Linked DNA regions of Homo sapiens: all the other regions are linked to region 1. Evidence: fine-mapped expression QTL. A gene starts in region 1. Each other region holds a variant in brackets. All regions are shown on one strand. Distances are from middle to middle. Region 1 holds the start of BAIAP3 (BAI1 associated protein 3). Region 2 overlaps UNKL (unk like zinc finger). Region 3 overlaps UNKL (unk like zinc finger).

Region 1 (8,173 bases):
ATTCACCAAATTCACCAAAATTCACCAAATTCGCCAAATTCACCAAATTCACCAAAATTCACCAAATCTGAATCACTCTAACGAGCTACAGCATAAAATCACTTGAAAAGGTGTGTGCTGACTTGATCAGAGGCACAAAGGAAAAGAATCTCAAAGTGAAAGGACCGGTTTGAATCCTACCAACACTTTGAGAATCACTACAAGAAAAACTCCAGATGAGGCCAGGTTACAGCTCACGCCGGTAATCCCAGCACTTTGGGAGGCCGAGGCGGGCAGATCACGAGGTCAGGAGATTGAGACCATCCTGGCTAACAGTGAAACCCCATCTCGACTAAAAATACAAACAAATTAGCTGGGCATGGTGGCAGGTGCCTGTAGTCCCAGCTACTTGGGAGGCTGAAGCAGGAGAATGGCGTGAACCTGGGAGGCAGAGCTTGCAGTGAGCCAATACCGCGCCACTGCAGTCCAGTCTGGGCGACGGAGCAAGACTCCATCTCAAAAAAAAACTTATAAAAAAAAAAACTCCAGATGAGCATCCATAAGCAACTCATTGACTTGCACAGTCCTTCTGAGATTGTTAAGCAGATTACTTCCATCAGTATTGAGCCAGGAGTTGAAGTGGAAGTCACCATTGCAGATGCTTAAGTCAACTATTTTAATAAATTGATTACCAGTTGAAAAAAAAAAACAAAAAAATACAAAAATCAGCTGGGCATGGTGGCGGGCGCCTGTAGTCCCAGCTACTCGGGAGGCTGAGGCAGGAGAATCACTTGAACCCAGGAGGCAGAGGTTACAGCCGAAATCACACCACTGCTCTCCAGCCTGGGCAACAGGGCAAGACTCCATCTCAAAAAAAAAAAAGAAAAGGAGGGACTCTGAAGCCCCCAGAGCTGGGAGGAGTCGCCTCCCAACCCCAGCTCTGCACAGAAGGATGCACACTGAGGGCCTGGCCTCTCCCTGCTGGGCCCCTAACCACAGTGAGCACAGAAGCCCATCTCGCTGGGAAGGGGCCTCTGACACCCCCACCCTCAGGCTGGTGGGAGGCGGGGCCAGGGGACAGGGTGCCATCCTCCCTGCCATCCAAGCCTCACCGCAGCAGGGGCTGTCCTGCCTGCAGGGCTCTGGCACACCAATGGCCTTTGTTTGGGGGCTTGGTAGGACCCTGTCTTGGGCCCACTTCTTTGTCCCTGCCCTGCCCTGGACCCCTCACAGATGCTGCTACTAGCACGGAGGCCTGAGAGAACTCCAGCGTGACACTGGGTGGTCACCTCCAGCCGGCCCCACCTGTGCACGCGTGGCAGCAGGACTCCCGGAGCTTCTGGTGTGGGATCTGGAGACCAGCATCTCAGGCATGAGGCCAGACTTGGGCTGAGGCCCTCCCACCCAGAGCCCCTCTCTTGATGGGGCAAGGAACAGGTTCTGGCAGTCTTCAGGGTCCTCCAGCTCCGGGGCAGGCAGGGTCCCTGGCCAGAGTCCCTGGGCTCTGACCCCACGAGCTCTCCAAGGACCCTGCCCTTCCTTGCTTGGGTCCTCAGAGGGAAGTTGGGGGCAGATTCTGGGAGGCTGTGCCTGCAATTTCTAGGGCTGCCACCAGAGGGTGGTAGCACTGGGCCCTGCGCTGTGCTCATGAGCGTGGAACAGGAGGGGCTGTCTAACTCTGCCATGGCCTCACCTGTGTGCTTCAGCGGCTTTGGCGCCTGCGTATCCAGAGCCTGGTGTTTTTACCTGCCCCCCCATCTCCGCCCCCCGCCACCGGCCCGGCCCTAAGGAGGAAAAGCTACTCTCCCTGCCTGCCAGACCCTTTCCAGCACAAAGTCCTGAGAATGTGAAAAGAGCCAGGCTTGAAAAATGGCTTTTCTCAGCTTTGCACAAGCAGCCCTGGTGCCCCAGCAGCCTCCTCAAGCTCTGACCCCGTCTGGGCAGGGGGTCTCGTGTCCCGACACATCGGTGGGAGGTGTTCCTGCACCTGCGCCATCCCCTCACTGTCCCCGGAGCACGGCAGCTGTCTGCACTCCGGTCCGAAGGCAGAGACGCCAGGGTAGCCCCTTCAGAGTGAGGCCTGGGGCTCAGGGTGGGGAGGGTGGGCGGCCCACTCTCCTGCCCTCTCTCTTAGTGGGAGGGGACTCACGCGAGGATGGGCTTCCAGCCCCAAGCTATGGAAAGGTAAATTGGGTCACTGGAGGGGCCGGAGTTCTGGCTGGGTGGCTGCAGTTCCCATCCCCACCAACTGGGACTGAGGCTGACCTGCTGTGAGTTGAGACTGGCTCACTGAGGTCCCCCAGCTGCACCCAAGGTGGGTGCTGCTGTTGTCCCCATTTTACAGAAGAGGGAAACTGAGGCCCGGGCAGTGGAGGGTCGCCCTGGGGCAGGGGTGAGCAGGGTGCTGGGACTTTGATCCAGGTCAGCCTGTCTTCAGCCTCAGAACAAGTTGGAGAATGAAGGCCTTGGTCACTGAGTGGGGTGTCGCTCGGATCGTTCATTCCTCGACTCCTCACCAAATGTTTGTGGAGGGGACAGTCCTAGTGACCGTCCTCTCCTGGGGAAACGGAGGCCCAGGGCTGGTTTGGGACTCAACCTATCACTATGTGGCCCTGGAAAAGCCCTTTCCCGTCTCCGGACTCCAGTCTCCCTACCTAGAAAAGAGTGGGGAGAGGTCTCCAAGGGTGCTCCCGCACCCAACGGACTGCAGTGTTGGTTTCAGGGTTGGTGCTCTCGTAGGGGCCGGAGCAGCGGCTGCCCCTCCCAACTTCCTGTTTACCGTAGCTGCAGAGCCTGTCCCTTCACTTAAAGCCAGTGTGATCACCATGGCAACCGGCCTGTGTTTGTTCCAACAGGTGGGCAGAACCTGGTGCAAGACCGCAGAGGCAGGGGCGTCACTCCCAGACCCGGTCTCCAGACCCACCAGCCCCTCAGGAGAACACTGCTACAGAGTGGGGCTGAGGGCCCAGGCCCCCTCCCCTGCTTCCCCCACCGCGTCCCTGTCCCAGCCAGTCCCTGCATTTCCTGCAAGCTCCCTGCCCTCCCCCACCGGCCTGGCTGTGCTGGGTCAGGATCCGGCAGAGCCTGGGCCGAGCGTCCCGAAGGAGAGCCCACCCAGGGGTCCTGCCCCCGATCCTGCACAGACAGGTGTGGGGCGGGCATGGATTTGAGTGAGTTGGGATCCAGAAGCCAAGACAGTTGTTGGCAGACGGGCCCCCTCCCTTTGAAGAGCTGTGTTCTGGAAGCCTGTCTGGCCTTGGGCTGCCCAGGTGCCCTTCGGGTGAAAACTCCAAAGTCTGACCACCCCCCACCCCTTGTCCCCAAAGGGCTGCGAGTGTCCAGCTGTATTCGACCAAGGGCAGGTGCGACCGGGGGGCCGCTGCGCCCTCGGCAAGTCTGAGAGCCTCAGGCCCCCGACAGGACCATGCTTAGCACGGACTTCTCAAAGTGTGGTCCCTGGACTGGCGGCAGCAGACTGGAGCTGGGAAGTGCAGGCGCTGGCTGGCGTGGGGACCACACCTGTGATCTCAGCGCCTTAGGAGGCCGGGGAAGGGGGATCCCTTGAGCCTGGGAGTTTGAGACCAGCCTGGGCAACATAGGGAGACCCCCATCTCCACAAAAGAAACCAAAAAACATTAGCCGGCGGGTGGTCCCAGCTACTGGGGAGGCTGAAGCGGGAGGACCACTTGAGCCGGAGAGTTCGAGGTTGCAGCGAGTGGAGATGGTGCCACTGCGCTCCAACCTGGTTGAGAGCTATTTTTGAGAGCTTTTTCGAGACTCTGTCTGAAAAAAAAAGGGAAAAAACGCAGATCGCGCCCCCACCCAGACTTCGGGACCAGCGGGTTGGGGACAGGACCCATCAATGCCTTAACAAACCCTGCAGGAGACCGCGGGCCCGCTGGGGTTCCAGGACAGCGCAGCGGAGGAAGAGCGGGGAGCCACCCGGGAGGGGCTGGCGGGGTCCAGTGCAGACCCCAGGGGCTCCGGGGGCTCTGGCCGGCTGTGACCCCACAAGCGCCAACTGGGCCCTCACCAGAGCCCCAGGGACGATCGCCCCACAGACCGTCCGCGTGGGCGTGGGGCGTCCCGAGTGGATCCCTGCAGGACGCATCCCCGCCCCGAGAAGAGAGCGGCGGGGCCCGCGAGGTGTCCCTGAGTCAGGCCCTTCCAGAAAGGTCTGCACCGCTGCTGGTCTTCGTGACCGTGGCTTCCCTGGGGTCCGCGGAGGAGACCCCGCCGACCACCCCCTTCTAGACCCCACGCGCCACGGGGAGGGCGCGCGCGGCCAGGCGGGGTCCCGAGGCAGCCAAGCCCGCTCCCCGTCCCGCAGCCACCTGTGGGTTGACTCACAGCCCCGCATCCCGGGGGAGGGGGCTCCGGCCCGGCTCAAGGCACGGAGACCCCGGCCGGGTCCCCTAAGGCGCCGTGGACGCGGGGGGCGGGGCGAGCGCGGTCAGGCCCCGCCCCGGTCAGGCCCGGCCCCGCCCCCAGTCAGACCCCGCCCCCGCAGCGGCGTCCGCCCAGCAGTTGCTCAGTCGTCGGCGCGCGCGGCTGGGAGCGGTAGCTGTGCCTCGGCGTCCCCGAGCTGGTGCCGAGCGCAGCGCCCCAGGAGCCCCCCCATCCCCGCGCCGGCCCACGGTAAGTGCCGCGGGCTGCGGCCAGTGCTGTTGGGCCGCCGTCTGGGCTCGGCCCCGCGCCCCAACCCGGACGGACCGACGGCCGCCGCCCCCTTGGTCCGGGTCCCCCAGGAGGCACGGGGGTGGCCTCCGAGGCGGGGGGCGGTGGGAAGGTCTCGACGTCCCCTCGGCCCTGGGGAAACTGAGGCCGCGCATGCTTGGAGGGGCGGGGTCTCGGGGGCATTTCCCCTCCGAACGCGCAGGAGAGGGTGCGGCGGTGGGGTCCGCACTGCGGAGCGGACGGGGAGGGTATCCGGGCGCTGGCGACGGCCTCCCCCGCACTTGAGCCGCCAAGCGAGGCTTCGACCCCCGCGCCTCCCTCCCCGGGGGAGCAGACGGGCCCGGGGCCTCCCAGCACCCCTCCCGGGCGGGCTGCACCCCCCAGCGTCCTCGTCCCTTCCCTCCTCCCGCAGGTCCTCGTAAGGCCCTTTAGTCCCCCCGAAATCCCTGCGAGTGCAAAGCGGCCCCTCCTTCAGCCCCACTCGGCAAAGGGCTGTGGGCTCTTGCCTGGGCCGGGGTCTCCGGGGGAGGAGTTTAAAGTGACACACTAGACCCGCCCCCAGACTCACCCCGGACCGCCCGCCCCCTCCGAGGGGAGAGACCCCCATAGAACTGGGGGTGTGGCTCCTGCGGGCGCCCGGGGCCCCGGGAAAGGGGGTGCCGCGAGGCGGGGCAGGGAGGGGGTCGGTGAGCAGAGGGAGGAGGGAGCGCTGCGCAGACACGGGCGAGGGGAGGAAGAAGGCGCCTCGGGCTCCGGTCTCCTGCGCTCCTGCTGGGCGCCAGCGGCTGGACCTTGGCAGCCGTCTGAGGCTTCGGGGAGCCCAAGGCCACCGGCAGCGCTTGTTAGAATGCAGATTCCCGGGGTTCGACTGGAATGAGACCCCGGGGAGCAGCGTTTGCAGCGGGCCCGCCAGGTGACCTGCACCTGGGCACCGCCATCGGCTTCGCAGGGGCCATCTGGAGGAGTCGGTGAGACCAGGGAGAGATTCCTGCGGGAAACCCCCAGGGCCTGGTGAAGGGGAGTCGGGGGGCTGAGGGAGGAAGAGCAGGGAAGCTGGAGAGAAGACCAAGAGGGCAGCGTGGAGAGCCAGCCTGTGGGGCAGATGTCCTGCCACCTCCCGCCCCAGGCACACACCCAGGGCACCATCAGCTAACCCCCTGCCCCAAATGTGGTAAGAAGGGCGCCCCCAACACGTTGAAGGCGTTTGTTCCTAGACAGCCTGCACTGGGGAGGAAGGCTGACCCAGCCTCTGCTCCGCTGCCCCCAGACTCAGCTGCCTCACTGCCCCCAACCCTGAGCCCCCAAATGGCCTGGCAGGAGACAGCTTGGCTTAAGAGTCCCAGGTTCACATCTGGGCTCTGGGCAAGTCGCCCCCACCCTGGGCTGTGAAATGAGATGTGCCATCCTCCTTGCAAAATGTCATTCCCCATTCAGCCCAGGCCTGGGGGACAGCCAGGGAGCAAGGTGGGATGGGCAGGTGTGGCTCAGCCCCAGTGCCACAAGGCAGGAGCTCCTTGGCGGTCCTCCCTCTGCTCACTGGACAGATGGGAGTGTGGTTCTGGTCCTGGCATCAGGCATGAGCAGAGTATGGGGGGGTTCATCCTGCCTCATGCTACTGTCCCAGGGTGAGAGACTGGGAAGGAGTTACATCACGTCTGGGCCCACGGGAAAGACGGGGGGTCCCCTGCACCTGGCTCACTCCTGCCCCGTAAGTGCTGAGAGCCACCCAGGCAGCCAGTGCTTCCTGTACTGGTCACAGACAGATGCATATGCCCACCATTCACAGCAGCTCCGGCCTCTGTGGCAGGTGGCTCCCAGGGCCCACGCAGTTGGCTGCAGCCAGGCTATCAGCTGCCCAGGAAGCCTGGGGTTTCCAGGGGAACCAAAGGGGTTTCTGCGCACCCAGGATGAGCCAAGTCTTCTGTACACCTGTGCCAAGACGCCATTATTGCACCCATCCTAGCAACGGGCAGTGGGAGGGGCAGGAGCTGCAGTTGGGGTCAGGGGGGCTGGCCTAGCTGGTTGCCCCAGGAGCTTAGCACTGGGGACACCAAAGAGACCTTGACTGCCGTCCCCAGCCCACTTGCTGGCTCTGGGACCTTGGGCGGGCTCCCAGCCCTGCGCCTCCGTTTGCCCATCTGAGATGCAGGGAGCAAAGGGCACCCCTCTCGGGCCGCTCTGGGGATGAGGAGGTGAATGTGGAGAGGAAAATGCAGGGAGGGTACCGAGCCCCCTTTTTCTGCCTGGAACATCTTGTTATCACAAAGACACCCCCTCCCCAACCCCGCAGTTCAGGCCACTTGGCTCCTGCGTCACATTTGTCTCCAGGACTGCGAGCCCCCATCGCCCCTGTCACACGCACATGCCGCGGCGGTTGCCCTGGCAACAGCTCCAGCAGCGGCTGCTCCACTGGCTTCGGGGGACAGCAGGGGGAGCAGCCTCTTCCACCCAGCAAGGGAGGGGAAGGGGGCTTGTGACTCCCAGGCCCCTGAGGATTTCACGACTGGCTGTGGGGGTGACAGCTTCCAGAAGCACTGTACCCAGCCTACCAAGCCCCCCCATCTTTTGGGGGGGAGGCTCACAGGGGAAGGCACTGATAGGTTTGAAGGAGGTGAGTCCCCCCCGCAAGCATTGCCTCTCACAGGGTGGGAGACGCAAACCCTCCTTCCTGTCCTCAGCTCTAGGGTCTGGTCCCGTAAGAGCCTGCACCCAGGGCTCGGGGGCTGGCAGGGACCCTGGAATCAAGACGAGATATCCGGGAATGGTGTCTGAGCTGGTGTGGGTATAGCTTGGGGCTGGTGACCCTGAACCCCCACAGACACAGCAGGGGCCCGGGAGCTGGCTCGACAAAGTCCGTTTGGAACCCACCACTGGCATGGTGTGCTCAGGCCCCCACGCTGCCCACTGAGCTTATGAGTCTAGTGCCACTGTGGGGAGCTGGCCTGGCATGCAGGGCCAACTGTCCGTGAGAGCCTGAGTGGGCGGTAGAACCTGCTGGTCTTCGTTTCCTCTCCTGTCCCGTGAGAATGACTATGCCCTTTGCGAGGGCCAGTGTGCCCAGCCCGGAGGCACCCTCCGCAGGTGGATGAGGGAGCACTGGCAAGGGAAGGGACCCAGACAGCAAGGCCAGGACCCCGGGGGGCTGGGGGAGCGCGGTGTCCTAGAAATCAGAGGCCGGCAAGGCTGGGACAGGAACCCAAGAGTGGGTACCTCTCTTGTGGTGGGGCAGAGGTGGCCTGGCTCTGGGACAGTTTCCATGGAGCGGGGAGGAGACCTCCCTGGGGCTGCTGGGGGGCAGAGGCAGTGCAGAGGTGGAGGGTCTGCACCTGCACCCATGCAGAGGAAGAGGGTCTCAGGAGGCTACGGTGTCTTAGCCATCATCCTACCCCTGTTGAAGGGGGTGTGCAGGGCAGGACCACCCGGCCTTCCTCCCTGACACAGGTGGGCTGGGCGGTGCTGGCTCATGCCTGTAATCCCAGCACTTTGGGAGGCCGAGGCTGGTGGATCACCTGAGGTC
Region 2 (8,173 bases), 45 kb after region 1:
AGCAAAGAGGCGGTCACTGCCCCACCTACCCGACATCGAGTCCCGCCCTCGCAGACCTCCTGCAGCCTCACTCCCCACAACCCACCCCACCCAGCAGGGAGCTGGCTGAGCCAGGCAGGGCTGACTCGTCAGGACTTGGTGGCCATGTCAGGGTGACAGCAGGTTCACCACACAGGGGGCATCCCAAAAAACAGCTGGAGAAACAAGGACTCGGCAGCCAAGGGGCCGCAGAGGGACAAAACCCCACTCTGCCGGGGAAGACAGCTGGGGCCTTTCCAGACATTTTCAGCATAATCAGCAGGAAAGGCAGGAGGGTGACTTCTGAAGAAGAACGCTGCCCTAGCCGCACATGAGATTTGTCGGGAACACAGCTGTGGGGCACGTGGCCTGCACCTCACCCCTCTGCCCAGGCCTCCGCTTCTCCTCCCTGGAAGCAGCTGGCACCAGTCAGCGCCACGGGGACCATGGGAGCAACCACAGGGTGGCGGGTGGCCCCTCGCCCGAGGCCTGGCGCTCGGCGGTCACACCCCCCGAGCCCCCCAGGGCAGCCGGAGTATCCTCGTGCCGCGGTGGTGGCCCCAGCGGAGCACAGGCAGAGGCTGGCGTGGACGTGGCGCAGCTGGCAGGTCCGGGCCTCTGAACTTCACCCCGAATCTGGCCGCGCTCAGCAGCCACACTGTGTGGAGACCGTGCTCCACCACCCAGAGCGGCAGGCGGGAGAGAAGCCTGGCTCGGGAGTGGACGGTGGACTCCAGAGGCCGCAAGGCAGAGGCCACCCCCACCCCACTCCACCGCACAGCACGACCCAGACTCAACCCTCGTCCACACGCCAGCCGTGAGGGAATTTCCGGGGCGTGGAGGCCGGGCTGTGGCGCCACCTGGCAACACTGTCCTTCCCCATCCCGTCACAGAGGCAGCAGGGCCCAGGGCAGAGAACCTGAACCCCTGGGGCGTCCGGGACGGCACACGGCGCATGCGGGAGTGGCCTCCACTCCCACGGAGACACCGTTCCAATGAAGCTTTTAGGGACTTTCGAAGGTCTTATCCAGAAACTAGAGTAACAGGTTGGGGGTCGGGGCAGCCAGGCCAAGACCCCCTGGGGACCAGGAACCCACAGTAGCATCCGAAAATGCCTCAGCCCTCAAGGATGCTCATCGGCGGAGCCAAAGGCAGGCCTTGGGCCAGCCGCACCCAGAGCCATTCACTCCTCTCCTTCCCATTCACAGGACGGTGGCGTCCCTGAGCGGACATCCACCCTGGCCTGCAGGGTGGGCCAGCCCTCCCGGTCGCTGTCATCCACTTGACGTTCTCAGGCCATGGCTGAAGAGGGCAAGACCTCAAAGCCTGACTGAAGTCGTGCTGAGCAGCAGAGCCGAGACACTGCAGGCAGTGGCAGAGGACCACGCACTGAGCGGCCTTGGACAGGTGGCTCCAAGGCTGAAAGTGAGATCTGTGGCGGGCAGGGCCTCTTCCCTCCTCCCTCCAGGGCTGGGGCGCTCCTCCTCCCTCACTCCAAGGCTGGGGCACGCTCCTCCCTCCTCCCTCCAGGGCTGGGGCGCTCCTCCTCCCTCAGTCCAAGGCTGGGGCATGCTCCTCCCTCCTCCCTCACTCCAAGGCTGGGGCATGCTCCTCCCTCCTCCCTCCAGGGCTGGGGCGCTCCTCCTCCCTCTCTCCAGGGCTGGGGCACGCTCCTCCTCCACTCTCCCTCCTCCCTCCAGGGCTGGGGCACTCCTCTTCCCTCCTCCCTCACTCTAGGGCTGGGGTGCTCCTCTTCCCTCCTCCCTCCAGGGCTGGGGCACTCCTCCTCCCTCCTCTGAGGGCTTGGGGATGCTCCTCCTCCCTCTTTCCAGGGCTGGCACACTCCTCCTCCCTCCAGGGCTGGGGTGCACTCCTCCTCCTGGCGTCCATCCTCCTTCATGGCTGGCAGCTGCGTGGCTCCAGTGTCTGCCTCTGCTCTGGGGGCCACCTCTTCCGAGTGTCTGTCCAAGTTTCTTCTTATAGGGAGACTGGTCACTGGCTCAGGGTCCCACCCTACCGGCCTCATTTTAACCTGGTTATGAGGACCCTGCAGTAGCACCCTGCGATCTGTAGCAGGGGGATACATTCCAAGACCCCCCCATGGACGCCTGATGCTGCGGATAGCACGGAACCCCTATATACCAAGCTTTTTCCTATACGAACGTCCTCATTTGCACGTCAGGCCCAGTAAGAGATTAACAAGATTAACTGGTAACATAGATTTCAGCACCGCACAGTAATAAAAGTTACCTGCGCAAATGCTGTACACTGCTGTCCTGAACCCAGACCTCGCACCAGCAAATGAGGCAGTGGACAGCGAACCCTGGGATAAGAGGACCTGCTGTGTTTCCCTGCAACGCCACGTACCTAGGTGCGACGCCTGGGGTTCAGGTGCATCTTCCCCCGCCACACCCAGCCCCCCCAACCGAGATAGAGTCTTGCTCTGTCACCCAGGCTGGAGTGCAATGGCGCGATCTCAGCTCACTGCAACCTCCGCCTCCCAGGTTCAAGCTATTCTCCTGCCTCAGCCTCCTGAGCAGCTGGGACTACAGGTGCCCTCCACCACCCCCAGCTAATTTTGCATTTTTAGTAGAGACAGGTTTTCTCTATGTTGGTCAGGCTGGTCATGAACTCCCCACCTCAGGTGATCTGCTTGCCTCATCTCCCAAAGTGCTGGGATTACAGGTGCAAGCCACCATGCCCAGCCTCAAATGCAACTTTCAGGGGACACAATTCAACCCAGGACATGGGGGCCCACCTGCAGATGCCCCTGTTGGTCCTGCCCGTCCTCCCCAGGCCCCTCAGGACTCTGTATCAACAGATCTGGCCCCTGCTGTGCACAGCCCTCCCTCCCTGAGTCCTCCCTCAGAAAGGAGACCCCCCCTCTGCCTCCACTCCCCCTGCAGCTGTTTTCTGGGGCCTCCTCACCACTCACTCTGCCCACCGCTGCCCCGGGCCCTTCCCTCCAGCCCTGCGCCTGTGCCCTGAACTGCCTCTTGTCATAGGCACCAGCTTCCCTCCCAGGCCCACCCTCCTCCCTGAGGGCTGGCAGCCTCTCCTGTGGCCTGGACCCGCCCAACACAGTGGCTCTGCAGCCCCGAGCCCAGATGTCCAGCAGGGGCCAAAGCCCTTCCTCCTCCCTGGCAAAGGATCCCTTGCTTGTTCCCATGGCCCCACTGCAGGCCCTTCCCAGACACCACGTGTGCAGGGGCTGCTGGAAGCTGGCACTGCAGGATCCCTTCCTCATGGGCTGCTCGCTCAACCCACACCCCCTGAGGCCCATGCCCAGCCTGCCTTCATGCATTGCAATAGTAACCTTCCTACCAAGAAAAGCCTCATTGCATCCTGAATCCTGACCTGCAAGAAAGGAGGAAGCTTGTGCCCTTGCGCGTGCCGGTCACCGCTTCCCAATGGGTCCTTTGCCGGGCTCCTAACCTGCTGTGCCACTGCAGGCTCAGCCTGGCTGTGCCTTCCATTCAGTAAGATCAGCCACACCAGTCCCCAGAAAGCTGCTCGGCCTCCAAGCCCTGCATGGAATGCCCCCCACTACATCCTTGCAGGTGTCAGCCTGAACCATGTCAGGGCCCTGGACAGACTCACTGAGGACAGGCACCGACCCCC[C/T]AACCCGCAGGCCTGCCCACAGCCCCCTCATGCTCCCATACGGGGGCTTGATGACGGGCAGGGCCAAGCGGTTTGCCCATAGTCAGGTCAGCCAGGCTCGGGAACCTGGACCTGCCCTCTGCACCCAAGTCCCAGGATCAGGATATGGCAGCCCCTTCAGAGCTCACCGCCCCTCACACCTGGCAGAGATCCAGAAACTCCTCATGAAAATCAAAGACGCAAAGAAGTTGGGGGACAGGAACGGAGGCGCCTTTTCTCCCCTTGGAGTGGGGTGATCCCACCAGGCTCCGTGCTAAGTCGGCAGAAGCTTCACCCACCAGCTGCAGAGTGCGCAGCATGTGGAGGGGCTAAGCTGCCTTCAATGCTCACCCGACAAACTACGGCTCGCACTCAACTCAGAGGGCGTCAGCCACCACCTACCTCAGCCAAGTCACCTGTGCTGAAGCCCGGGAAGCTGCCTGGAGAGGGGACGTTCAGGGAGCGTGTGGGTGCCCCCGAGAGACTCCGGCCCCGCTTCAAAGCCAAGTGCCCCTCATCCAAAGAGAGCACCGGAGAGGGTCCTGGAGGCTCCACCACCCCTAGGGTGCTATCTAGGGCTCACTCCCAGAAATCAAGGGGGGAGACGGCTGCTGCACCGTCCTGGCCCACTTTCTCACCCGCAGCTTCTCCCCCACCTCACCTCACTGTTTCAAGGTTAGACCCAGATCTTCTGAAACATTCTCAAAGAAAGAGCTGACCCTTGTGCAGAGGCAAAATCTAGGTGAGGCTGGTCACCTAAGCGAGTACAGCTGGGTCAGGCCAGGCTGCCTCAGCCCCGGGCGTTAGGAAACCACCGGCCCCGCTGAGTCACCGCGACACAGCCCGGCTCTGCCGTGACACAGCACATTCAAGGCGCCGCGGTCCCCCGGGGTCAGGGACACGCGAGGACAAGCTACAGACTGCTCGGAACTCAGGACAGGGCGGGGGAGCCGCCGACGCCAGGGAAATTCCCGTACCACGCGGGCTGAGTGCAGGCGGGCCAGGCCAGGACGCAGGGGTCGGCCCTCCCCCGCCCCGTTCCCCTGCCCTCTCCTGCCCCGCTCCGCTCCGCTCTCCTGCCCCGCTCCCCTGCCCTCCCTCGGGGCACCGACCCCGCCTAGCTAGGGGACGCAGGCGGCCCGAGCCCGCGCTGGGAAGCGGCGAGCGCCCGGCAGAGGCAGGTTCCGAGAAGGCGACGCCTTCGCCTCGCTCCGGGCCTCTGAGAAGCCCGGGCCCACCCCGCGGCTGTCACACCCGGCTCCGTGACGCGGGGGACGCACCTGGCGGGGGGCGCACCTAAGGGAGGGCCCGCTCCTGACCGCCGAGTAACGAGACCCGCACCTTGGCGGCGCACGGCTGCCACGCGCTGGGGCCGCCGCCAATGCTGACTCACGGTCCGCGGCCGCCCCGCGCCGCCGCCGGGGATTCAAACCCGGCCCGCGCCCCGCCCCCTCCGCGCTGGCCCCGCCCCGCAACGTGACTCGGCCCCGCCCCCGTCGCACTGGCCACGCCCCCCGCGCTGCCCTCCCCCAACCTTCCCCCCGACTCGGGCGCACCCGGTCCCCGCGGCTCCTGGCTACGAGCTGGGCGGGCAAGTGGGCGCGGGCAGCGGGGGCCAGAGGTCTTCAGGCAGAAAGCCCCAGAGCTGCCCCGCTGCCCGGCTCCTCCTGCCCTGCCCACCTGCACCTGCAGCTGCTCCGGGCGGACTCAGGTGAAACACGGTCGACCCAACAGGGGCGCTCGCGGGGCGGGGCGGCGTGAGCTGGGGCCGCTGCCTGCCCTGCAGGACCCTCCTCCCTCCCAAGTCCGCGTGCCTGCCCAGCCCCATCTAAACGCGGGGTACGGAGCTCGCAGGTCTCTCTTAATCTGAAACCTGTTCCTATGAAGTGTAAGATGAAGGAAAATGGAACCTATCAGATGGGTCTGAAATGATCCCACTAAAAATCCCTTAAATACAGAATCCGCTCATTTCTTCTATTCCGTGCTCCAGTCACAGTACACCTACAACCTGAAGGAAACTGTACTATTAACACAAGGAAAAAACGACCCAGTCTACACACCAGCTTTGTCCAAAACCCTCTACAACAGCTAATAAAATACACACGCAGCCAGGCGGGCCTACACCTGGGGCCAGACAGTCCCGGGAGCCATGGGCAGGGAGTCCCTGAGCCTGGGGCGCAGGAGTGCCCTGGGGTCAGCGGGCAGGACACTGCCTCCAGTGCCTGTGGCTAGTGCAGGGATGTAACTTTACAGCGATGTCTCAGACATGGACAGAGGAAAAAAGTGAGGCTGGCACTGGGTGGCAAAGCTCACAATTTCAGCCGCAGCAGCAGCAACAATACATTGCCTCTAACTAAGGCAGTGTCGATCCTGAAAAAAAAAAAAAATCCATCTCTTCACCTCTGAGTAGCTGGTTCAGGATTTTTTTTTTTTTTTTTTTGAGAACAAGTCTCGCTCTGTCACCCAGGCTGGAGTGCAGTGGCACGATCTCAGCTCACTACAACCTCCGCCTTTGCGGTCCAAGCAATTCTCGTGCCTCAACCACCTGAGTAGCTGGGATTACAGGAGCAAGCCACCACACCCAGCTAATTTTTGTATTTTTGGTAGAGATGGGGTTTCACCATGTTGGTCAGGCTAGTCTTGAACTCCTGACCTCAGGTGATCCACCCGCCCTGGCCTCCCAAAGTGCTGGGATTACAGGCGTGAGCCACTGCTCACGGCTCAGGAAATATTTAAGTAAATGAAAGAGTGTGCTTCAAGATCGCGAGTGACATACTAAAACAGGTCAAAAACGTACCTCAGATACGAAAGAATGGTTGGAAAAATGACTACAAATGTGCTAACTCCAGTCCATCTGAAGGTCAGCTACGCGGATGCAGCCACGCCTCTGTCAAGCACACAGGCACCTGGGTCGACTTTCCACCCGAGTGAGCACAGTCCAAGATGGTCTCTCTTGTTTGGGATTTAATTTTCCTAAATATTTTTCTGCTATGCTCAAATTCTAGCATTACTACTTTTAGGTTGGGGAAGAGAAACTTTATTTAAAAAGAATGTGTGCTTATTTGTTTAAAAGAAAAAAATAAGTGACCGGGTGTGGTGGCTCACGCCTGTAATCCCAGCATCTTGGGAGGCTGAGGTGGGCGGATCACCTGAGGTCAGGAGTTTGAGACCAGCCTGGCCAACATGGCAAAACCCCGTCTCTATTAAAAATACAAAAATTAGCCGGGCATGATGGCACACACCTGTAATCCCAGCTACTCCGGAGGCTGAGGAGGGAGAATCGCTTGAACCCGGAAGGCAGAGGTGGCAGTGAGGCAAGATTGTGCCATTGCACTCCAGCCTGCACAACAGAGCAAGAAAAAAAAAGAACCTGCTCAGAGGCCAGACCCTCATGGAGCTTTAGCCACTGTGTAGACTTCATCCCTGACCTCTGAGTTTCTGAAGGGGATGTGTGAATTTGAGGGTGTGATTTAGTAAGATCCAGGGCCCTGGATTATGCAACCCATGTATGATAGTGATCTCAAATTAAAACTAGCATGTTCTCACCGGGCCCGGTGGTGCCTGCCTGTGGTCTCAGCTCTACTTGAGAGGCTGATGCAGAAGCATCTCTGGAGCACAGGAGTTGGAGGCTGCAGCGAGCTGACTGTACCACTGCACTCCTGCCTGGGTGACAGGGCAAGACCCTGTCTTAAAAAATAAAACCCCAAAATGAACAAAAACAAACTCAGGGAAGGCCGTCACCTGTGGTGATCTCCAAGTGCTCTGTCCCTGGGCTGGGATGGAATGGGATGGGGGTGGGCACCCCAGCATATTCAACTCATGAGACCTCTCTGTTCAAGAGGAACAACATGTACGCCCTAGTTTCAAACTGAAAACACATGTGGGCTTGTTTCTGCCTGAGAGAAAGCTTAACACAGCACACAGCACTCCCACCCATGGAGTATTCACAGTTTTAAAAACCTACCCTTTACGGTGAAGCCCTAACAGGAGACATCCCACACCACATGCTTCCTCCTCCATAGAGGCTCCGAGAGAAGATGACTTCCAAAACAGGCCGGAGGGCGGAAGTTTGAGTCCTGTCCTGAAACCAGGTGAGCCCTCCATGGCAAGGCAGAAATGAGGAGCCCTTCCCTGGGCAGGGCAGCCCCATACTCCCAGCCAGTGAGGACGAAACAAACGCAAACACTGCTTGCGCCTGTGCCCCTGCCCCCGCCCCGACCAAGCCCCACCACTGGGCGCTGGGTCCATCCAGGATTCCCACTCTCCCCATGGCCTCCTGAGGGAGGGACTGGCCCTGGATTCTGGAGGGTTCTCCGGCAGGTGCACAACAGAGCCCACATAGGAACACCAGGGCTGCGAGGGGGAGATGCACACGGCCACAAAAGTTCCCAGTATTTGTGAAAGAGACCCTTTAAAAAATGCAGGTCGGGCACAATGGTTCACACCTGTAATCCCAGCACTTTGGGAGGCCGAGTTGGGAGGATCACCTGAGGTTGGGAGTTCAAGACCAGCCTGG
Region 3 (8,173 bases), 57 kb after region 1:
CAGAGAAATGTCCTCCCAGGGACTTAAAAAGAGATCCAGCACCACTTCCAAAACATCCATAGCGTGGTCCTGTGACCTCGTCACCAGGGAAAGTAAAACACAGGGCAATTCACATGATCTGTATTTGGTGGATAATAGATCAAAAGAAAAAGAGCAACACACAGAGCAGTGCTGAATAAAAACCCAGTAACGGGGAGGGTGCTGCTCACAAGAAAACACCCGACACAAAAGACCCAGAGCCACCTACGAGGTCACTGCAAAACCAAGCATCAAAAGCTGGATTAGAATGAGTTTCTGGCTGGGCACAGTGGCTCATGCCTGTAATCCCAGCACTTTGGGAGGCCAAGGTGGGCAGATTACTGGAGGTCAGGAGTTCGAGACCAGCCTGGCCAACATGGCGAAACCCTGTCTCTACTAAAAATACAAAAAAAATTAGCCAAGGCCGGGCGCGGTGGCTCACACCTGTAATCGCAGCACTTTGGGAGGCCGAGGTGGGCAGATCACCTGAGATCAGGAGTTCGAGACCAGGCTGCCCAACATGGAGAAACCCCATCTCTACTAAAAATACAAAAAATTAGCCGGGCGTGGTGGTGGGCGCCTGTAATCCCAGCTACTTGGGAGGCTGAGGTAGGAGAATTGCTTGAATCCGGGAGGCAGTGGTTGTGGTGAGCCGAGATCGCACCAATGCACTGCAGCCCAGGCAACAGAGAGACTCTGTTTCCAAAAAAAATGAATTGCATCCTGAAATATTACAATTCAAATGGTATGATATCTGGGTTTTGCTGCAAAGTAATGCAGAAAAAGTTAACCTTGGGAGGTGTGATTTTACTAGTTTGTCTCCTTAAGTAAAACTGTCCATAATGAAGAAATTTTAATGTGCATTTCCTAAAGATCAGAAATCCCCGACAAGAACGCGCCTGGCTCCTGGCTTCTGTGACCTAAGGGTCCTGCTGCCTGCCCTGGCTTCCTTCTGGATACCAGATTTGCCCCTCAGCCCACGGCCCAGGAGGTGCACAGAGCCCCCCGTGACTGACTCTGAAAACAGTCCCCTCCAGCTGCAAAGTCTGGAGACAGCCACCAGAGCTCCCTGCCCAGGTGCGAGAAGGGGCCTGCCCCCTCGTCCATAATCCACTTCCTCTCCCTGGCCCAGAGACCACTTTTCCTCAAGCCATGAAAAAACGGACCACAGTCCACCCCGTGAGCATCAGGGACGGCGGTAACTCCTGCACCCTACACCGCAGACCCTCCCAGCCATGCAGCACCGGGGACCCTCCCAGCAATGCAGCACCGGGGACCCTCCCAGCCATGCAGCACCGGGGACCCTCCCAGCCATGCAGCACCGGGGACCCTCCCAGCCATGCAACACCGGGGACACTCCCAGCCATGCAACACCGGGGACACTCCCAGCCATGCATGGTGCTGCCAATACCCCCTATCAATCCCCCATGGTGAGCCTGGTGACAGGGTTGCTGGAAGCCTCATGTTCTCCAGCAAGCAGCCCAGAAACACTATGGGTGATTCGAGACCTGGTGCCATCTCAGTGGCAACCCGCCCCCTATCCCTTGCACTTCCTGTCCCTGCTTCAGACCCTCAGTGTGGCCCCAGGAAGGCTGAGAAGGACCTCTTGACAGACGTTCTGGTGACCAGACATCCAGGAGCAACGCACACCTGGGAGCTCCTTGTACCCCGATGGCTTGGATCGGGGAGGGAGCCGACCTTCTCTACCAGCAAAGGACAGGGCCACCTGGGCTGTGGGGCTGAGGAGGCAGGCACCAGCAAGGGGTGAGTGACGTGGGGCGGTCTGCTGAGCTCACCGCATCCAGCAGCTATCACTCAGAACCAAAAGCTCAGGATGGCAACGCACGGCCCTCCGGGGACGTGGACACTGCACAGCCGCACGGCTGCCCGGCCCTCCGGGGACGTGGACACTGCACCGCCGCACGGCTGCCCGGCCTGCGGAAGCCCTCCCCCACCCCCGCCTCATCCCATCTCTTGGCAGCCCACCCTGTGTCCCGGGGTCTGCCCAGGTCCGTGCTCTGGGGCACGGTCCCTACACACAAGCTGCCCCTGCTCAGTCAGGCTGAGGTTCCCCATGTCCTGACCCACCAGTAGCCTAGAGGCCACCGCCCGGGTCACAGTCACCCCTGTGGATGTCCTCTCAGCTCCATGACCCCTGTGGGCGTCTCAGTCCTTGCCTGAACCCAACTCCAGAGCATCACCCAGGCCCAGAGGCCACCTCCCATGTAAGGGAGAGCTGAGGGACTGTTGCCTGGAAGGGCCCCGGGCCCACCAAGAAGCCGTGGACGACGCTGGGGTTTGCAGAGCAGGCCTGCCCCGCCCTGGGTCGGACAGGGAGTCTGTGCCCCGCACCTGTGTCTGCATAGAGCCCAAGAATGCAGAAAGCCAGGAGGCACCACAGTGCAGGTGCCACGTTTGCCCCCAAAGCAGCACTGATCTGAGGGCTGGGCACGGGCTGACCCTCGGCTGGGACAGGCAGCCTCAGGCTCCCAAAGCGCTGCCCGGCCCAGGGTGAATGCAGCACCCTCAGAAGCCAAGGCCGCCTCCTTCCCGCCTGTCTGCAGGAGGGGACTCCACCCCGGAGGCCTTCCCCAGCCTACTGGAGGCCATAAACCAACAGGGACCAGAGAGGAAGCCTCAGCCCTGAGTGACCCCCCAGACCCCATGCTGACCCTGCCCGGGAGCTGGCCAGGGTGATGCGCACACTGTGACTTCAGCCCAAACGATCACCTGAAAATCATCAACATCCATGTCACTCCTTGTACCCCAAGGCACAATGGCCACAGATGACGGGCCTGGTGTGGGAGTCCATCCACATGAGGGATGGGCACAGTGAGAGGGGTCAGACGAGAGCTCCGTGAGGATCCCGCACCTTCACTAACACCGGCACCGTTCTCCCCGTGGGGACGCCACACCTCCGCTACCACCAGCACCGTTCACACCATGAGGACACCGCACCTCCGCTAACACCAGCACCGTTCGCCCCGTGGGGACAGCACACCCCAAGCTACCACCAGCACTGCCTGCCTGGTTTTTCTTCTCTGTATTATAGTGAAATATAATATAAAATTTGCTACAGTGGCCATGGTTTGGTGTAGTACGTGGCATGAATTCCATCCACACCGCTGTGCAGCCATCACCGCGTCCACCTCCAGAACTCCTCATCTTCCAGCCGGAAGCTCTGACCCCGTGAACACTTGCCCCCTCCCCCGGCCCCGGCCCCGGCCCCCACCATGCCACCTGCTGTCTGTGAATGTGACTCCACTAGAGACCTCCTGTGAGTGGAATCACGCAGGTTTTGCCTTTCGGTAACTGGCTCATTTCAGTCAGCACAGTGTCTTTGTTATGGACCAAACGTGTCCCCCCCAAATTCCTACGTGGAAGCCTTGACCCCCGGTGTGACTAAATTTGGAGATAGGGCCTGTGAGGAGTAATTAAGGTGAAATGAGTTCTTACTCCAGGCGTGGAGGCTCACACCTGTAATCCCAACACTTTGGGAGGTCAAAGCAGGAGGATTGCTTGAGCCTAGGAGTTCGAGAACAGGCTGGGCAACCCCATTTCTAAAAAAATACAAAAATTAGCCAAGCCTGGTGGTGTATGCCTGGGGTCCCAGCAACTCAGAAGGCTGAAGTGGGAGGACTGCTTCAAGCCTGGGAGTCCCGGGCTGCAGTGAGCTGGGACTTGGCCACTGCACTACACCTGGGTGACACAGCCAGACCCTGCCTCAAAAAATTTAAGAATCTGTAAAAACACAACAGCAACAATGAAATGAGGTGTGGGGGCAGGGCCCTACGCAGCCACTGTCCTCAGGAAGAGACCCCAGGGATGCCCACGCACAGAGGGGTGACCCCAGAGGACACGGAGGAGGCAGCATCTGCACCCGGGGGGCCTCAGGAGCCAGCTCTGGACAGCTCAAGCTCGGACTCAGCCCCCAGAACTGAGAGAGTCAAGTGCTGCTGCTTGGGGATTGGTTTTGGTTTGGTTTGAGACAGGGCCTCACTCTGTCGCCCAGGCTGGAGTGCTTGGCTCACTGCAACCTCCACCTCCTGGGCTCCAGCAATTCTCTTGCCTCAGCCTCCCAAAGTACTGGAACCACAGGTGTGAGCTACTGTGCCCAACTAAAACTACCTCATTCATTCATTCATTCATTCATTCAGAGACAGAGTCTCACAGTGTCACCCAGGATGCAGTGCAGTGGCACGATCTCGGCTCACTGCAATCTCCACCTCCCGGCTTCAAGCAATTCTCCTGCCTCAGCT[T/C]CCCGAGTAGCTGGGACTACAGGCACGTGCCACCATGCCTGGCTAATATTTTGTATTTTTAGTACAGATGGGGTTTCACCATGTTGGCCAGGCTGGTCCCGGACTCCTGACCTCGTGATCCGCCCACCTTGGCCTCTCAAAGTGCTGAGATTACAGGTGTGAGCCACCGTGCCCGGCAAGTTCTGCTGTTGGAACGGCCCCATCTGCATCCTTCCCTCGCAGCCCAAAAAAGTAACACAGATGGGCTCCAAAGGGCCCCTCTTATTTCCCCGAGCACGATGTTGTGGCTTTGTTTCCAAGGTATAACACGAACGTTTCAAACAGACAAACACGGGGGTACCAGGAAAGAGCTAATTCTACAACAAGCGGACGTCAACCAGATGGCTTTGCGAGCCGAGAGTGGGCGGGACCAAGGATGCATGAGCGCTGCCCTAACGCGATGCCACGGGTCAGGCACGAGGGCGGGAAGCCTCAGCCCTAACGCGACATCAGGCACGAGGGTGGGAAACCTTGGGGGCCTGTACCTGCTTGCTGTCTTGCTCGCTGCCCCTAGGGCCACCCTCGGCCGGCGAGTCTCTCCGCTTGGCCTGCAACATAAAAAACAGTCATATGTGGAAAAAGCAGGGAGGAAATGTAAATTAAAAACATACAATTCAGGCTGGGCACAGTGGCAGCACTTTGGGAGGCTGAGGCGGGCGGATCATCTGAGCTCAGGAGTTCGAGACCAGCCTGGCCAACATGGTGAAAACCTGTCTCTACTAAAAACACAAAAAATAGCCAGGCGTGGTGGCACATGCCTGTAGTTTCAGCTCCTCGAGAGGCTGAGGCAAGAAAATCGCTTGAACCCAGGAGGTGGAGGTTGCAGTGAGCCGAGATGGCACCATTGCACTCCAGCCTGGGCAACAAGAGTGAAACTCCGTCTCAAAAAATAGAATAAAAAATTTAAAAAAGGATATCGCTTGAACCCAGGAGGTGGAGGCTGCAGTGAGCCAAGGTCATACCACCGCACTGCAGGCTGGGTGATAGAGTGAGACTCTGTCTCCAAAAAAAAATACACACACACACACACACACACACACACACACACAATATATATGTACCTATTCAGCAGTACTCTTGGTCCCTTAAAGATACACACACACACACACACACACACACACACACACACACACACACATAAGCTCTGCTCAGAATTTAGACGAATGCTATTTTTGGTTTTGTTTTGTTTTGAGACAGGATCTCGCTCTGTCTCCCAGGCTGGAGTGCAGTGGCATGACCTCCCTGGCTAAAGCAATCCTCCTGTCTCAGCCTCCCAAGAAGCTGTGAGCACAGGCATTTGCCAGTGGACCCAGTTAATTTTTCAAAGCTTTCTGTAGAGACAGGGTCTTGTTATGTTGCCTAGGCGGGTCTCGAACTCCTGACCTCGAGCGATTGTCCCACCTCAGCCTCCCAAAGTGCCTGGTTTACAGGCGTGAGCCACTGCAACTGGCCAAAGATGCCAAATCTCGAAGGTCTCATGAAACAGAAGAGATGCCTGAACCTGCTGGCTCCCTGTCGGTTCTCCTGAGTTCCATTTCTTTTCTTTTCATTTTTTTTCTGAGACAAAGTCTCACTCTGTCATCCAGGCTGGAGTGCAGTGGCGCGATCTCAGCTCACTGCAAGCTCCACCTCCCGGGTTCAAGCAATTCTCCTGCCTCAGCCTCTGGAGTAGCTGGGATTACAGGCGCACGCCACCACGCCCGGCTAATTTGTGTATTTTTAGTAGAGATGGGGTTTCACCATGTTCATCAGGCCGGTCTCGAACTCCTGACCTCAGGTGATCCACCCGCCTTGGCCTCCCAAAGTGCTGGGATTACAGGCGTGAGCCACCGCGCCCGGCCCTGAGTTCCATTTCTTACATTTGAACGTGGCTCTCTGACCTTGGGTTGGTCCGTGTGAAGGCAGGGTGCCAGCTCTGCACTCCCTGAACCAACCATGGCATCAAACCCCAAACCGAGCCATTCACCTAAGGCAGAGGCTCAGGTGAAACTGTTAAGAAATATATGAAGGGAGTCAGAGTGTGCCACCCCAAAACATGCCACTCTTTGACAAAAAGATTATTTTGAGTTGAAGGCAGCTGAGAAACAGTAGATGCAGGAGCAGCTCTCTGCTTCCTTCCTGCCTCGAAGCCGGGCGTGAATTCCCTCTGTGAAGGTGTCCTCTCCCCTCTCCACACCAGGAGGAGAGACTGCAGATTGAGGCTGCATAACCAACCTCACTGAAGTTGCTCTTACCTTCCGCCAGTCTCCCCCATAGCCTTACCTTCCTAGAAGCCCAACCCCCTCTTCCCCCCTCTTTTTTTGTTTGAGATGGGGTCTTATTCTGTCACCCAGACTGAAGTGAAATGACGGGACCTCACCTCACCACAACCTCCGTCTCCTGGGTTCAAGTGATTCTCCCGCCTCAGCCTCCTGAGTAGCTGGGATTACAGGCACCCACCACCACACCTGGTTAATTTTTGTATTTTTAGTAGAGATGGAGTTTCACCATGTTGGCCAGGCTGGTCTTGAACTCCTGACCTCAGGTGATCCACCCGCCTCAGCCTCCCAAAGTGCTGGGATGACAGGCGTGAGCCACTGCCCCCAGCCTAGTGGCAAGGATTTTTCTAGACTCTTCTAGAAGAGCCACGAACTCCACAGACTGCCCACGACCACATTGCTGAAAACTCATATCCATCCACATCCCTAAGAGTTCAATTAAACCAAAGGACACTGGGCATTGTCCTGGGAAGGCCGTTCACTTACATTTCCCGGCTGGCCGCTGCCCGTGGAGGAAGGACTCGTGAGGTGGAGGTCGTGACAGCCCCATTCATTCACCATCCCCAGGCTCTCTGCAAGGACAGGGGAGCAGCAGACTCTGAGGGCCGCTGGTGGGCGACAGTGACACGCAGAAGTCTCCGCACCACACGTCAGGGCCGAGTGTGCGCAGCCTCGTCACAATCATCCCTCAGGGGTGCGGCAGAGGACGGCTGGGCAGTGGTGGGGACACTCAGGGCAACAGGACCCTCTGGTCTTAGACCAGTTTTTCATGTTTTTAACACTAAAAGCAATGTTTAAAACGTGAACAAGAATAGCTGCCCTCCCCACTAAAATAAAAAACAAAGGAAAATTTGAGCTTGTGACCACACACACAAAACCTGGAACCCAAATCCTAGGGCTGGGAGGAGGAGGCCGTGTGGGTTCCCACTGAACCCAAACCCCAGGGCTGCGAGGAGGAAACCCACTGCAGCGTGGAGGAGGCCGCATGGGTTCCCACTGAGTCCAAACCCCAGGGCTGCCAGGAAACCCACTGCAGCGTGGAGGAGGCCGCGTGGGTTCCCACTGAACCCAAACCCCAGGGCTGCCAGAAGGAAACCCACTGCAGCGTGGAGGAGGCCGCGTGGGTTCCCACTGGGGCTTGTTTCTGCTGCTGGGAACTTATTAGGGACCACATAATCGCCAAAGCTAAGCCCTCATCCCCTGGACAGCAAACGGGCTCTGGAAAGCACAGGGTCACCCTGAGCAACCCTGCTTGAGGGTCTCTGCTGTCTCCCCGAGCTGGGGCGGACAGACCCCCTCTCTCCACAAGGGAGGTGGTGCTCCTGGGTGGGTGCCTGGCAAGATGGCAGTCTCGGAGCAAGGCCCAGGCAGTGGGTGGCAGAAGGACCCAGCTTGGATGCCCAGGAGGCAGGTGGAGGTGCCAGCCAGCCCACACCAGGACTCAGCCTCCAGGCTCAGGGCCCCAGCGTGCCTGAAGACAGGGTCCCTGCAGATTCCACCAGGCCTGGCCCACGCCGGCGTGGAGGGAGCCCAGCCTCACATGGCACAAACACCCCAGGGAGCCTCCACGGGCATGTCAGGGACCCCCAGCCCCCAACC

Evidence for each region. PIP is the estimated chance that this variant, and not a neighbour inherited with it, causes the effect.
Region 2: its variant is fine-mapped to the expression of BAIAP3 in whole blood (GTEx, PIP 0.99).
Region 3: its variant is fine-mapped to the expression of BAIAP3 in whole blood (INTERVAL, PIP above 0.99).

What each region holds. Positions count from the first base shown.
Region 1 is chr16:1,329,133-1,337,305 of GRCh38, forward strand. BAIAP3 (BAI1 associated protein 3) reads left to right here and starts at 4,513. Exons shown (of 34, transcript NM_001199097.2): 1 at 4,513-4,617. It also overlaps the pseudogene RPS20P2. RefSeq lists an enhancer at 2,641-2,690 and silencers at 3,467-3,667, 4,403-4,562.
Region 2 is chr16:1,374,596-1,382,768 of GRCh38, forward strand. The region is part of intron 10 of UNKL (unk like zinc finger); the gene reads right to left. Among named protein-coding and RNA genes, the nearest start is that of GNPTG, 27 kb to the left of the region's middle. RefSeq lists an enhancer at 577-1,076 and silencers at 4,698-4,767, 4,838-4,887, 4,928-5,007, 5,038-5,177. The variant C/T (reference allele first, on the strand shown) is at 3,640.
Region 3 is chr16:1,385,831-1,394,003 of GRCh38, forward strand. UNKL (unk like zinc finger) reads right to left here. Exons shown (of 15, transcript NM_001372107.1): 8 at 7,061-7,146; 9 at 4,802-4,864. Among named protein-coding and RNA genes, the nearest start is that of UNKL-AS1, 18 kb to the right of the region's middle. The variant T/C (reference allele first, on the strand shown) is at 4,278.